Linked DNA regions of Homo sapiens. The protein of the gene in region 1 interacts with the protein of each later gene in a biochemical or structural test. Each region holds a gene or a part of one and is shown in the gene's direction. Other genes may lie near its edges. The genes, in order: CCDC6 and CREB1.

Region 1 (7,495 bases):
AGCAAGTTCAGGAAGACACATTGCCTTTTTGCCACACCCTGGGGAAGAGCCGGGCTCTTTTTTTCCCCCGACTTGTTTTGTTTTTTAATAGACTTTATTTTTTTAGAGCACTTTTATCTTCACGTAACACTGAACATAAAGTACAGAGATTTCCCACGTAACCCCTGCCTTCACACGGGCACAGCCTCCTCCACCATCAACATCTTTCATCATAGTGGTCCATTTGTTATAGTCAGTGAACCTACGTTGATACATCATTATCACCCAAAGTCTAGAGTTTACTTGGTCTTGTATATTCTATGAGTTTAGACAAATGTATAATGACATGTGTCCACCATTATAGTATTACGCAGAGTTTTTCTGCCCTGGAAGTCTTCCACGCTCTGTTCATCTTTCCCTCCCTGCAAACTCCTGGCAACCACTGATTTTTTTTACTCTCTCCTTAGTTTTGCCTTTTCCAGAATGTCATATAGTTGGAATCATACAGTATGCAGACTTTTCACTTAGTAAATGCATTTAAGTTTCTTCCATGTTCCCCAACTCCTATATCTTGTTTTCTGTTCAGAGTTAAATAGTATTTCATTGTTTGGATGTATCATAATTTATCTCTTCACCTCCTGTAGGGCATCTTGGTTGTTTCCACCTTTTGGCAATTATGAATAAAGCTGCTGGAAATATTCATATGAAGGGTTTTGTCTGGAAAGATATCAGTTCATTTGGGTAAATTCCAAAGAGCATGATTGCTGAATTATATGGTAAGAGTATGTTTAGTTTTATAAGAAATTGCCAAACTGTCTTCCAAAGTGGCTGCATCGTTTTTCATTCCCACCAACAGTGAATAAGAGTTGCTTTGGCGGGGCCGGGCGCGGTGGCTCATGCCTGTAATCCCAGCACTTTGGGGAGGCCAAGGCAGGCGGATCACCTCAGGTCAAGAGTTCGAGACCAGCCTGGCCAACATGGTGAAACCCCATCTCTACTGAAAAAAATACAGAAAAATTAGCTGGGGATGGTGTTGCATGCCTGTAATCCCAGCCTCTTTGGAGGCTGAGGCAGGAGAATGGCGTGAACCCAGGAGGTGGAGGTTGCAGTGAGCCAATGTCGCACCACTGCACTCCAGTCTGGGTGACAGAGCCAGACTTCATCTCAAAAAAAAAAAAAAAAAAAAAAAGAGTTACTGTTGCTCACCAACATTTGCTGTAGTCAGTGTTCTAGATTTTGACCATTCCAATAGGTGTATAGTAATATCTCTGTTATGCCCTTTTTAAAGCCAAGTCCAAAGGCTAATAGAAGCTCTTAACCAATGGTCTCTTCTGGTATGTAAGCGGCTATTCTGGTCAAACTACCCATTTAATGAACGACTAGTTTCATGGGCCTGTGTTCTCAGTATCTGTATAATAGTGGTAAACATCATCTGTGGGAGACAATCAACAGTAAGCAGTCTTTCAGTCGTGTCCACAAGCGCCCAGTGCACCTGTGAGTTATAGCCTGCCCTAGGCCATTTTATTTGGGGCTTAAAAGTGGAATAGAATATTTTGAGTGATTATTCAATTTTCCCCATGAAGTCAGCAGGGGAATCAGGCTACTGATTACAGATCATAATTTCTTTTTTTTGGAGTAGGGGAAATAAACAAATGCATAGTCACCTTTTTGAGTAGCTTTTGTATGTTAGGCCAGATCTGTTGGTTTGTCCTATGAGTGAGAATGTGATTGTGGATTATATGATTCAGTGTAGTGAGGGTTATTGTGGGGTGGTGGTCTTAGAGAAGGTGAGGAAATGCAATTGTGGGCAGTAATTGGATGGCTTCAAAGTTCTCAGCTAGTTGCTGGCATTCTCCGTGTATAAGCAGGGCCTCAGGTGGTTCTCTAGGGTGTGTACCTCTTCCAGGCAGTTTCAGACCTTTGGTATGTGTTTGGTTTGGAAATCAAGGCCTATAATAAATCACTGATATTTAAGTGTCTCTCTGACTGTAAAATTAATCCTTTATTGTAGAAGTTAAGGGAAATACAGAAGTACAAGGTGTTTTGAAGTTATAATAGAAAAATATGTTGGTCTGGCATGATTAGAAAACCTGGCTATTTTAAACATCAACAGTGTAATGGTTTCATTAACCAATAAAATCTGCCATATAGTTGATGTTGTATATTTTGGATTATTTACTCTGGAAGTCTAATATGTTATTTTCAATTTTTAAGACTTTTGTCAGACTCTGAAGCTACAAATCGATATTGCCTTTATAAATGTGACGATGAGAGTGTGATGTCTTTTTTCCCCCCGTTTAGAAAAGTATTTCTTAGATTCTTATGGAAACACACAACTTTAGACACAACTTTGAGGAAAATATGACCTCACAGTTAGGTCTAACTGTACACAAGTCTTCTTAAAGAGGCCATTCTCCTATTTCTTCAGCATTTACGAGTTTTTTCACATTTGTAAGTATCTTCTATGTGTTTCATATACTCTATTTGTACTTAATTTTTAAAAACCGTTTGTTTTTTTTGTGTGTGTGTGACAGCTTTATTACCCAGACTGGAGTGCAGTGGTGCGATCTCAGTTCACTGCAACCTCTGCCCCCCAGGTTCAAGTGATTCTCATGCCTCAGCCTCCCTACTAGCTGGGACTACAGGCATGCGCCACCATGCCCACCTAGTTTTGTATTTTTAGTGGAGGTGGTGTTTACCATGTTGTCCAGGCTGGTCTCAGAACTCCTGGCCTAAAGTGATCCACCCACCTCTGCCTCCCAAAGTGCTAGGATTACAGGTGTGAGCTACCATGCCCAGCCAAAAGCTGAAATTTTAAAGGTCATGACAGTCTTTTACAGTGCTTCCTATTTGCTAGAGATGGGGAATCATTAGAGAATTCACAGTATCTGGTTTGTGGTGACTCTTGTTCAGGACCAGAGAGGCTGGTCTACAGCAAAAATTGAAGGTAGCCATTGCTTGCTTAAACATATTGAATGACTCCCCATTGTCCTTGGATCCAGGTGAACCTTCTGGTGGTTTACCAGGCTCTGCATGATTGGAATGCCCTGCTTGCTTCACAGCCACACCTCTTACATGCGTTTAGCCCAGTGTGCATTCTCTAAGCTCTCACATCACTCCTTTACTACTAGCACCCAGAACTTCAGTAGATTTCCTCTGGCTCCTCAATGGTGCCGCTCGTCCCCTTAAATGTTCTTCTGTATTCCTCCCCTCTTTTCTACCTTGTCAGTTGAAATAGACTGTACTGCCTTCTCCACCTGAACCCCTTCCTGGTATGCCCTGATACTTCCTCTTTGTCAGCCACACACCGGGGTATGCACCTGCTACTGGGGTATGCACCTACTTCCGTGGTTCCATAGACACCACCCCCCCCACCCCACGTCACTGACACTCGACTATCGAGATCTTTCCCGGTTCATGTGTAAATTTCTTTGGGGGCAGAATTTGCCTTGTTCATCACATTCCTCAGTGCTTGGCATGTGAGAAACACCCAGAAATTTGTTGAGCTGGCTCCAGAGGCACGGGTATGTATGTACTTGTTTCTTTCTGTGATGAAGGTGCCAACACTCTCTCTGGGACCTTGTCTTCATAGAGCCACTCCCCTGCCACAACAGCAAACACTTTCTTTACCATAGTTGATGAAACAGACCAGATATGTGAATGGATGCATTGTATACTTTGGGGGACCATTGCAATCAGTGTGCCCTTGCCTTCTAGCTTTGGGTGATGTGGGCTACCTTGCAGCATACACCTGGGTGTTCCTGATAACATTTTATCTGAAAGGGGACAAAGTATTTTCAGGTTCTCCTTTCTAAGTGTTTCTGAGCAGGGCTTGGAGGAAAAAGTAGCCCCATTGGAAGTGTTCAGATTTGCTGCCTTGGTTTTGGTGATGGTGGCAGATCATTCCAGGTGTTTCCTATGACTCTTTAATGTTGAAATGCACCACTGGGAAACAACTCTGGCCCATTGCAGGGGGATGCAGTAATGCAAATAAATACTGGTGACCTGTAGCAGTGATGGGGGAAGCATCTGAAAACAGGGTAGGGGGATTGTTGAATTCTTACGTCTGCTGTGTCTTGCAGAGACACAAGTGTCACCACAGTGTATTTGTGTGTGTGTGTTTTCCTTAAATCATGCCTTGCCGAAATAATTGTGTTTACACTTCAAAATGCTAATCCAAACTACTGAACTGCAGTCAGGCTGAGTAAGGAATAATGGTAATCTTTTCTGTCCTCTCTGCATACTTTTTTTCCTTAGTGGGTAGGTGTTGCTTTTTGTTTTCAATCACATTGTGGTTGTTTTCAGGTATATTGAATTGTCAAAGTTGGCAGAGTAAATGTTCACAGGTTCAATATGTTCCTGCTTGGTGATGGTTGCAATTTTCTTGACAGAGGAACTAATCCTCTGGAAAATATTTTTAATTGTGAGGATCTTGGGGTGGTGTTAACTTGCAGATTCTTCCTACTTCTCCAAGGCTGTCAAATTTTCTTATCTTTTATGGCTGTGAAATGCACAGCTGTGAAGTCTATTCCAACCCTGATACCAGTAAATTGCAAAGGTCACTTTGTGTAGGTTCTCTCTTTAGGGATAAGTATTCTTTTAAAAAAGGCTTAACAATATGATTGATGGTCATTTAGAATTAACCCTCCCCTTTACTTATTGGTTCCTGGATCAGACATATGGAGTGCAATTTAATGATTATAGTTCATTACAATACTCATTTGTTTTTTGCTGGGAGATTTTTCTGGTCTCCCCTCTCTGCCCCCGCCTTTGTTTCTTCAGTAAGGTACAAAATGGCATGTAATAAATAAAATAAATATAGCCTCAAAGAGGCAGGATTCAGCTGTCAAGTGCTTATAATACTGTGTGCTGGATACAAATATCCAAAAGGAATGTTAGGGCTCTCCCGGTAGCATAGCGAGGATTGCACTTGACTTTCATTCAGCCTGGCCCTGGCCTGGTGCTGTAGGGAATACAGAGCAGAGGGAAACAGCCTTTCTCTCCAGCCTTGGGGATTGTGCAGTGCAGAAGGAACCAACACACACATGGATGCAGGAAGGGAAGCTTAGGCCGACTCCTGTAGGGGTTCCCAGGGAGGGGAATTTTACCTTCCAGCTTCCAAAATGAAGTTCATCTATCTCTGTGAATATCTTTAAGGGTAACAAGTTATCACATTCATTCACAGTTTAATTAGCTTGTAGTTTATTATGTAAGGCAGAGATGGGGAGAGCTGTTGCTCAATTTATGCTGAGGTGGCACTGGGAGGCTTTTGGTTTGTTTTTAATTTTTGTTTTTATGTGATGATGATTGAAAAGAAATGTCATTGATATTTTAATTTCATAATCTGCATCTGTCAGTACATGGAAATTATCTAGGTGGTTTTTTTCCCTCTATTCCTGTTTCTTTCATGGAATAATGGTGGATGGACGGAATTTCTCAAGTTTTTAATCCGAAACTATCTGAAAGCAAAGACTTCTTGCAGTAAAATTAGAGGTACTATTTTATAGGAAATTTTGAATTCTAGTTTTTTACAAAAGCAGTGCTGATTGATGGGCTAATCTTCCATGCATCTGTTCCAGATCAATCCAGCCTTGTGGTGCCAGGTGTGTGTCCAAAGTGATCTGGGTAATACCCACCAGGGCATCTCAGGGCACTGAGGATCAAATGAGGCCACTTGGTACTGCAGAGCAGAGTTGGGATGTTCAGCCAGGCATAAGTCATCATTCAAAAAGTTTTCCATAGGAGGAAGGACGAGAGTAAAAGAATGAAAGCAGCAGGGATTATGGGTGACCTAAAGAAAATTCTTAGAAATCTAGTTACCTGTGTTAAACACTTCACCTGTTGCTTCTATAAGTGAACAGTTTGAGTCTTTTGTGCTGTCTGCTTGTTGAGATTGAATTAGAGAGGCTAAAAGGGACAGATCTGAGAGAAAAATAATTATACCTGGAGTTTCATATAGATAACTTTTCAACTCATGAAATTACTTGTATGCAAGCTTGACTTTTTAAAAATTATCCTAATAGGCCAGGTGTGATGGCTCACGCCTGTAATCCCAGCACTTTGGGGAGGCCGAGGCAGGCGGATCACCTGAGGTCGGGAGTTTGAGACCAGCCTGACTAACATGGAGAAACCCCTTCTCTACTAAAAATACAAAAAATTAGCTGGGCATGGTGGTGCATGCCTGTAATCCCAGCTACTCGGGAGGCTGAGGCAGGAGAATCGCTTGAACCCGGGAGGTGGAGGTTGCGGTGAGCCGAGATTGCACCATTTTACTCCAGCCTGGGCAACAGGAGTGAAACTCCATCTCAAAAAAAAAAAAAATTATCCTAATATACCAACTCAAATGATAACTTTTATTCTACTGAGAGATGTTTTTTGTGGGGTGGAGTTCTTCACTAGACCAGAGTTTATCTAAACAAAGACATCCGTTGAGTCAAAACATCGTGTCTTCACTTCATTTAGTAGCCCTACTAATCTTTGAGGAAAAAATTGACTAGGTGATTTTATTGTTTTTATTAACCAAAGAGTACTGTTTTAAGTGTATTCTCCATAAAGTAGAGTTAGACTTCTTCAGGTTCAAATCACTACCTGGTAAGGGTTTATGTCCCTTGGAAAGTATATTAACTGTTTTATGCCATTTTGAGCCTTGCATGCATGGGGTTTATATTGTGAAATACCTTAGGTACCCAGAGAAGAGTACCAGTGACTTTTTTTGCATTTTTTTTTGTGATAAAAACATACACAACATATAATTCACCATTTTAACCATTTGTAAGTGTACAATTCAGTGGCTTTAAGTACATTCACAGTGTTTTGCAACCATCACCATTATCCATATCCAGAACTTTTCATCATCCCAAAAGGAAACTCTGTACCCATTAAACAATAACACCCATTTTTTTTTCCTCCCTGGTAAACCTCTATTCCTAGTGACTTAATTTTTTTTGTTTGTTTGTTTTTGTTCTTGTTTTTGTTTGTTTTTTTTTTTAAAGAAAGACTTACTCTGGTCTACAAAAGCTGCTAGCTGCTTTTTACTGTCCTGGTCTTGAAGTTATAAATTTGGACCTTAAGTGTTGATGTCTTATTTTAACTTAAGTTTGTACTGCCTGTTAGCTGTCCCATATATGGTTCTTTTCTGTCACTCAGCAAATGTGCAGTGCCCTAGCCCTACGCCCAGCTCTGGGCTTGGTGCCAGTAAGCACCCAGATGTGGAGATGCTGGATGAGGGAATAACCCATGGCAAGAGCTTGTCCTCCAGGAGGGAAGGGTCATCCCCCCATATCTTACCCCCAACACTTCACAGATCATGGTTGCTTTTTATTTTTTATTTTTAATGAAATGTATGCATTTAATTTCCTTGATAGCATTTGGAATAAACTGTAATTTTATTTTTTAAATTACTTATTTTTATACTCACAGGTACAGTTTATTACAGGGAAAGGATGCAGGTTAAAATCAGTCAAGGGAAAAAGCATATAGGGCAGAGTCCAGGAACGTTTTTCATTGTGGAGCTTCT
Region 2 (7,495 bases), on another chromosome or scaffold:
CTCCCGGGTTCAAGCAATTCTCCTGCCCCAGCCCCCCGAGTAGCTGGGATTACAGGTGTGAGCCACCGCGCCCGGCCTGTTTTATTATTTATACATTCATAATTTGTGATTCTTAGCAATTCCAGGTGAAACTTCAAACTTGTATTCATTAATACTTGAACATTCACCTGGAACATGTTACTAAATTGTACTTCTGCACTGTTCCAGCCATGGATAAAAATTACAGCTGGATCTGCTTGAATCTTTTTTTTTTTTTCATGAACACCTACATTTAGAAAGCTAATAAATTACTTGACAGAGTTTGCTTGAAGAATGTTAAAAGAACACTTCTTTGGGAATTTAAAACTTAAGTGTTACCTGTTTTGAATGATTTTTTTTTTGTTTACATAAAGAGCCTGAAGAAACTTAGACACCTGATCCATAAAAATGGCACCTTTTTCTACTTTCTGAAACTCATATTCTTGATTAGGTCTCATTATTAGAAATTTTGGGTTCTTCATAGAGAAGTAGCTTTATTTCTCTCTCATTCTAAGACATTTGGTTTTGTTTGTTTGGATACAGTATGGTTATGGGGTTATAGTAAAACCAAGTATGTCTTCCTCACGTGTTTTTAAATTCTACTTTTTATAACAGAAAATTATTTTTAACCTAATGCTTACAATATATTACCGAAATTTATAATTTCATTTATTCCATAAATAGCTTATCAGATATGAGTTACATAAACTTGTTTACAGCCAGCTTGTGACATAGTTTTGCAAATATCTTGATATATGGTGTAACTTTGATGGCTTCTTTATTGAATAGAGCTCAAATCTAAATTTAAGAATGTAATGAGATGTCAAGATGGAAAAATGCAGGATTTTTTTTTTTCTTACCCATGTGTAAACTCATCTGTACTGCAGTATCACTTGAGACAGCAGTTTATGGTAATTCAAATATTTATTTGGCACTCACTGTGACAGAGAATGTAGTTGAAAGAGCATGAGGTTTGGAATCATAGGCCTAGGTCTGAATCCAAGCATTGCCACTGCTATCCTGTACCCACCCTAAAGGAATTTTGTGTCCTGAAGGAAGTTTCTTAATCTTTCTCAGCCTCAGTTTCCTTATATGTAAAATTAGAATACTACTACTTATTTCATAAGATTGCGAGATAAACATAAAGTACCTTAGGGCTACAACTAATGATAGCTAGTCCCTTAAGCTTTATTTTAACTTCCTACCTGTGGGCCCTTAGGCAAGTTATCTTAACTTCTTAATACCTCACTTTCCTTTCTGATCAGTGTAGAACAACTACCTCAGAATTGTGGGGGTTAACTATAAAGTAATACATACTAAGTCCCAGGCATTGTGCAAGTGTCAAGTGCTCAAGTGTTGACAAGGCTTTTTTCTTTTGTTTTAATTTTTTTTTGAGACGGAGTCTTGCTCTGTTGCCCAGGATGGTGTGCAGTGATGCAGTCTCAGCTCACGGCAACCTCTGCTTCCTGGATTCAAGTGATTCTCCTGCCTCAGCCTCCCTAGTAGCTGGAACTACAGGCATGCACCACCACGCCCGGCTAATTTTTGTGTTTTTAGTAGAGACAGGGTTTCACCATGTTGGTCAGGCTGGTCTTGAATGCCTGGGATTATAGGCGTGAGCCACCACGCCCAGCTGGTCTGTTACTTTTTAAATTATTTATTATTACTATATGTAATACAGTGGGTCAGAAGCTACAACAAATCCAAAGATGAATTACGCTGTCTTATCTCTACCCTCAGGAACTGTTGGGGACACAGTGACTAAGGCAAAATATGTGTCAAAAGAAAGCAGTCAAAGGAAAAAGGGATCACCTTTGGTGAAGTGAGGAGTATATTTTTTATATTTCTAATTTGGTTTTTTGAATAAGTAATTCATTCACATGATCTATAATTCAAAACATAATAACAGCAAAATGCCCTACATTCTCTTGCCCTATTACCTAAGTGTTAGCAATTTTTTATTTGTCCTTTAAGAGGTGTTTTATGCAAACACGAGCAAATATGTATGTACAGTCTCCCCCTTTTTGTACAAATGGTAGCATACTAGGTATACGCTCTCCTATATCATGCTTTACCCCCACCACTTAATATGGCTTAGCAATTTTGTATCAGCACATAAAGAGCTTCTTCATTTTTTAACATACAATTGGAAGCATTTTATTATGTAAGTAGACTGTATTAACCAGTTAGTGAGCTGCTTTTATTCTTAGGTCTTATATTACCTTTTAAACTAAGGGAAACTGCCATCTTGCCTTTATTTCTTTAAATGAAAAACTTTCTATTTGAATGAAAAATAAATAGTTTGTGACAGGAAATTGTTATTTAAAGTCCCTCATTTCCTGTTTAACTCCAGTTTTTAAAAGTTTTAGTAAAATGATCAAAATGTACATGAGGAGGCAAGCAAGCCAGGTTAAGAGTTAACTCACAAGGTGAATTTAACTCTTTTGTTGAGGTTCTTACAGTTCTGAACAGACTACTTCTTTCAATTATTATTTTGGCCCAAAAGGTTTTTATAGCTTTCTTTCTTAATGAGAAAGAACATTTCATATAGTCCGGTGTTTTTTTGGGTTTTTTTTAACAGACAGCTCATGGGATATTATTACCCAGTAAGGCTGATTACTATACTAGATTTCTCCCTGCATTCATTTATTTTTTACATACTTGTTAACTTACCTTGACGATTTTCTAGTATTTCTTAATGTAATTATGTGAGTTTTATATTTTGTACCTAAATTTAAAAATAGTGAGATTCACCTATATGATTGCTGAGATGATAAACTTTACTGCATAGATGATTTTTTTACCCCCGTGGGGAAACCTTTGGTCAACCAGTTGGACCAAGTAATACGTATTTCAGCCAAAGCACAAAATGCGTTTCACTACCTTTTTTTTTTCCTCTAGCTTTTCGAAACAGCATTGAGCTACAATACTTTTTTATTTATTTATTTATTTATTTATTTTTATTTATTTATTTTTTTGAGGCAAGGTTTGGCTCTATCACCCAGGCTGGAGTGCAGTGGCACACACTTGGCTCACTGCAACCTCTGTTTCCTGGCTCAAGCCATCCTCCCATTTCAGCTTCCTGAGTGAGTGGGACAACAGGCGCGCACCACCAGGCCCGGCTAATTTTTTGTAGAGACAGAGTTTCGCCATGTTGCCCAGGCTGGTCTCAAACTCATGAGCTCAAGCCATCCACCTGCCTCAGCCTCCCAAAGAGTTGGGATTACAAGCGTGAGCCACCATGCCCGAATGCTGTAGTACATTTTAAATATACATGCTGTTTGTATTTATCTTTAAAATGTACACACTATGACTTTTTTGAGTTGATTAAACTCAGAAAGTGATTAATAATATAGCAGCAAGGGCACAAATCTCTTTCCAGAAAACATCATTAAGTAAAGCTGTCATGGGCCAGTCGCGGTGGCTGACGCCTGTGTGATCCCAGCACTTTGGGAGGCTGAGGTAGGTGGATCACCTGAGGTCAGGAGTTCGAGACCAGCCTGGCCAACATGGTGAAACCCCGTCTCTACTAAAAATACAAAAATTAGCTGGGCATGGGGGCAGGCGCCTGCAATCCCAGCTACTCAGGAGGCTGAGGCAGGATAATCACTTGGACCTGGAAGGCAGAGGTTGCAGTGAGCTGAGATTGCACCATTGCACGCCAGGCTGGGCGACAAGAGCGAAACTCTGTCTTAAGAAAAAAACAAAAGCTGTCATGGTATATTTCGTTTTTTGTATTCCCAAGTTGGTGTTTATGCGTTGATCATATATACAAAGTTTTTAATGTAAGAATATTGTTTTGAGGTTTTACTAATATTTGATTTAAAATATTACTATGTGCTATTTGGCCAGGCGTGGTGGCTCACGTCTGTAATCCCGGCACTTTGGGAGGTCGAGGCGGGCGGATCACTTGAGGCCAGGAGTTTGAGACCAGCCTGGCCAAGATGGTGAAACCCCATCTCTACTAAAAATAGAAGAATTATCTGGGTATAGTTGTATACGCCTGTAGTCCCAGCTGCTTGGGAGGCTGAGGCAGGAGAATTGCTTGAGCCCTGGAAGTGGAGGTTGCAGTGAGCCAGTATCACCCCACTGAACTCCACTCTGGGTGACAGAGCAAGATGCCATCTCATAAATAAAATATTACTGTGTGCTATTTGTACCTGCTAAATGATTAAAATGTTTACAAAGTGCTTTGTTGTTGTTGTTGTTGTTGAGACGGAGTCTTTCTCTGTTGCCAGGCTGGAGTGCAGTGGTGCGATCTCAGCTCACTGCAACCTCCGCCTCCTGGGTTAAAGCGATTCCCCTGCCTCAGCCTCCCAAGTAGCTGGGATTACAGGCGCCTGCCACCATGCCCAGCTAAAGAGACAGGGTTTCACCATGTTGGCCAGGATGGTCTCGATCTCCTTGACCTCGTGATCCACCCACCTCTGCCTCCCAAAGTGGTGGGATTACAGGCGTGAGCCACTGCGCCTGGCCTACAAAGTGCTTGTCTTTACATATTTGGGGATGGGGGTGGGGTAGATCATTGAAATCTGTAAAGGCAGAACGTTTTTTATCTGGAACATATCTGTAGACTAACAGAGTTAAATGATTTCCCACAGTGTCATGGAATCATCAGTGGATTGCCTCTTGGGGTGGAGGCAAAGATCATTAAAGCAGCAAACTGATAATGTGAACGTGGTTGTTTTTTCTCTGCCAATTAAATATATGCTAGTTTAGTCATTATAGAAGAGCCAGATGCTGGTCAGCTTGTTGAAGTTGTAAGTAGAAGGTGTGGTTTTATCACATCTGTAAATGTAGGTTTTTGAGACAAAACTTAAATAAGAATAGACGTTAGTTTTTATTCACATTCAGAATGTCTGACTCCCCTTAATATATACACACTCTTGTCTTATCTACTGGGTTTTTTTGTTGTTGTTTTTTGTTTTGCCTTTTCTCTCTCTCTTTTTAAGCTCTGCCAGACAAGGCCCTATGAAGATAGGTTTTACAGGTTGAGAATCTTTTATCTGAAATTCTTGGGACCAGAAGTATTTCCAGTTTTGGGTTTTTTCAGATTTTAGAATATTTGCATATACATACATAATGAGCTATCTTGGGGATGGGACCCAAGTCTAAACATGAAATTTGTTTCATATACACATTATACACATAGCCTGAAGGTAATTTTATACAAAATTTTTAATAATTTTGTGCATGAAACAGTTTTGACTGTGAACTGTTACATGAGGTCAGGTGTGGGAATTTTTCATGGCATCATGTCAGTGCTCAAAAAGTTTGAGATTTTGGATGTTTTATTAGGGATGCTTACCCTGTATTATATTTTGCCCAGATGTTTCCTCATTTGTCTTCTAGGCTACCAGAAAGATGTTAGCTTAGAAAAACGTATTCTGGCGTTTATTCCAACAGATGAGAAGGCAGTTTCTCCAGTGATGAATAATTACCTATAATTTAATACGTGCATTATACATCTCCAGTGATGAAAAATCACTGTGTATTAAAAAATTCTTGAAGCTAGGTACATAATCTCAACTCCTAAAAAAGAAAATAAACAGTAGTACTCCTTGATGAACTTACAGATGCTAAGTTGCCTTTTCTTAGAGTTGAAATAAGGTGATAAAGGAGTTTACCGTGAGACTAGCTGTGTGAACAAAGATGAAAAACACCCTTTCAGTTTTCTTCCTCTTGGATGATTCTAGGATCTCTAAAAAATAATCTTAAAAGGGGCGAGGTTTTGAGAGGATGAGGTCTAAGGAATTGATGGTGAGTTTTTTCTGAAAGAAGAGAAGTGACATTTGATTAGATAAGAAAGGGTTAAAAGGGAAGTTATTAATAAAATAGTTTAGGAGTAGAGTGGATCTGAAAGTTGACTTATACCAATGATGATAGAATGTGTCTTTTCCCAAAGGTTAGTGCATCTTCTCTGAAATGAAGACGTTTCTTTCATCAATTTTAAGTGAATTTCTAAGGATCTGGTTATCTACTTGTGAGTTTTTGGTTGTAACTGTATGACAGTACAGATGTAACTAAAAATGTTTGTAATTTACCCAAGGTTAAATAACCATTATTTTTGAGGGCTGTTATCCCTGTTGGTATAAGTAAGTAGTTGGCAGTAGGGGACACAGAAATACCTTGTTTTTCACCACTGAAGTGAAAATTACAGATTATTCTGAATTATTTGTACTCTTTTTTTTTTTTTTTGAGAGGAATCTCGCTCTGTCTCCCAGCCTGGAATGCAGTGGTGTGATCTCGGCTCACTGCAACCTCCGCCTCCTGGGTTCCAGCGATTCTGCTGCCCCAGCCTCCCAAGTAGCTGGGATTACAAGCATGTGCCACCATACCTGGCTAATTTTTTTTTTTTTTTTTTGTATTTTTAGTAGAGACAGGATTTCACCATGTTGGCCAAGCTGGTCTCGAACTCCTGACCTTATGTGATCTGCCTGCCTCAGCCTCCGATTACAGGCATGAACCACCGCCCCCAGCCCTATTTGTACTCTTAAAGGGGAGTCATTTTCTTATAATAAGTATCAGTAGTAGCTCTATTGTTTGCTGTGATCAATGGTGACACCTTGACTTTATGTATTGCCATTTATCAATCATTTATTCAGTGAAGATTTATTGACCATTGACTTTATTATGGTTGGTGAAATAATCGCAAGAAAATTTATTCAGTTAGGTATTTATAAAAATACCTAGGTATTAAATGAAGATTGTTCTAGTTGATATAAGCAATAAAGCCTGACTATATGGCTCCTACCCTCAAGAATCTTACGGTATAGTAGGGATGATGAAATAGTGTAAGAATGATTTATATGTGCCAGAGTACATGACAGAGTTTTTACTGTCTTGAAGAGCTACAGAGTTCAGAAGAGAAGGGGCTTAGTGAGGAAAAGTTTTGTGGGAGAAGTAGAATTCAAGTTGAATACTAAAGAACTTCAGTAAGTACAGATAAAATGGAGTGTATTCTAGGCAGTGGAATGGACAAAAAAATGAAAACATGGACATATAATGAACTTGACATACTCATAAATTGGTGAAGAAAGTATTAGATTATAGATCTACATTTTGAGGAATGCTGAGTATGAGGCAGGGAGCTTTGAGTTTCATGTAAGAGAAGGTAAGATATAAACAGGAATACAATGATAAATTGGGCTGAAATGTAGATTTCCTGACTCCCAATTCTTCTCCTTAGTGTAGACAGAGATATACAGTCATGCACTGTATAAGAACGTTTTGGTGAATGACAGATTGCATATACAACAGTGGTCCTGTGCTAGTGTAAGCAAACCTATTAAGAACTTCAGATAGGTCCTTCAGGAGGTATTCCAGAAGAAGGCATTGTTACCATAGGAGATGACAGCTCCATGCATGTGATTGCCCCTTGAAGACATTCCAGTGGGACACGTTGTGGAGGTGGAAGGCTGTGATGTTGACAATCTTGACCCTGTGTAGGCCTAGGCTAACGTGTGAATGTCTTTTT

The links.
Region 2: the proteins of CCDC6 (region 1) and CREB1 form a complex in vitro, tested with the Homo sapiens proteins (one study listed by BioGRID).

What each region holds. Positions count from the first base shown.
Region 1 is NC_000010.11:59,896,062-59,903,556, reverse strand, and holds part of CCDC6 (coiled-coil domain-containing protein 6), read left to right. Parts: intron 1-7,495.
Region 2 is NC_000002.12:207,532,844-207,540,338, forward strand, and holds part of CREB1 (cyclic AMP-responsive element-binding protein 1), read left to right. Parts: intron 1-7,495.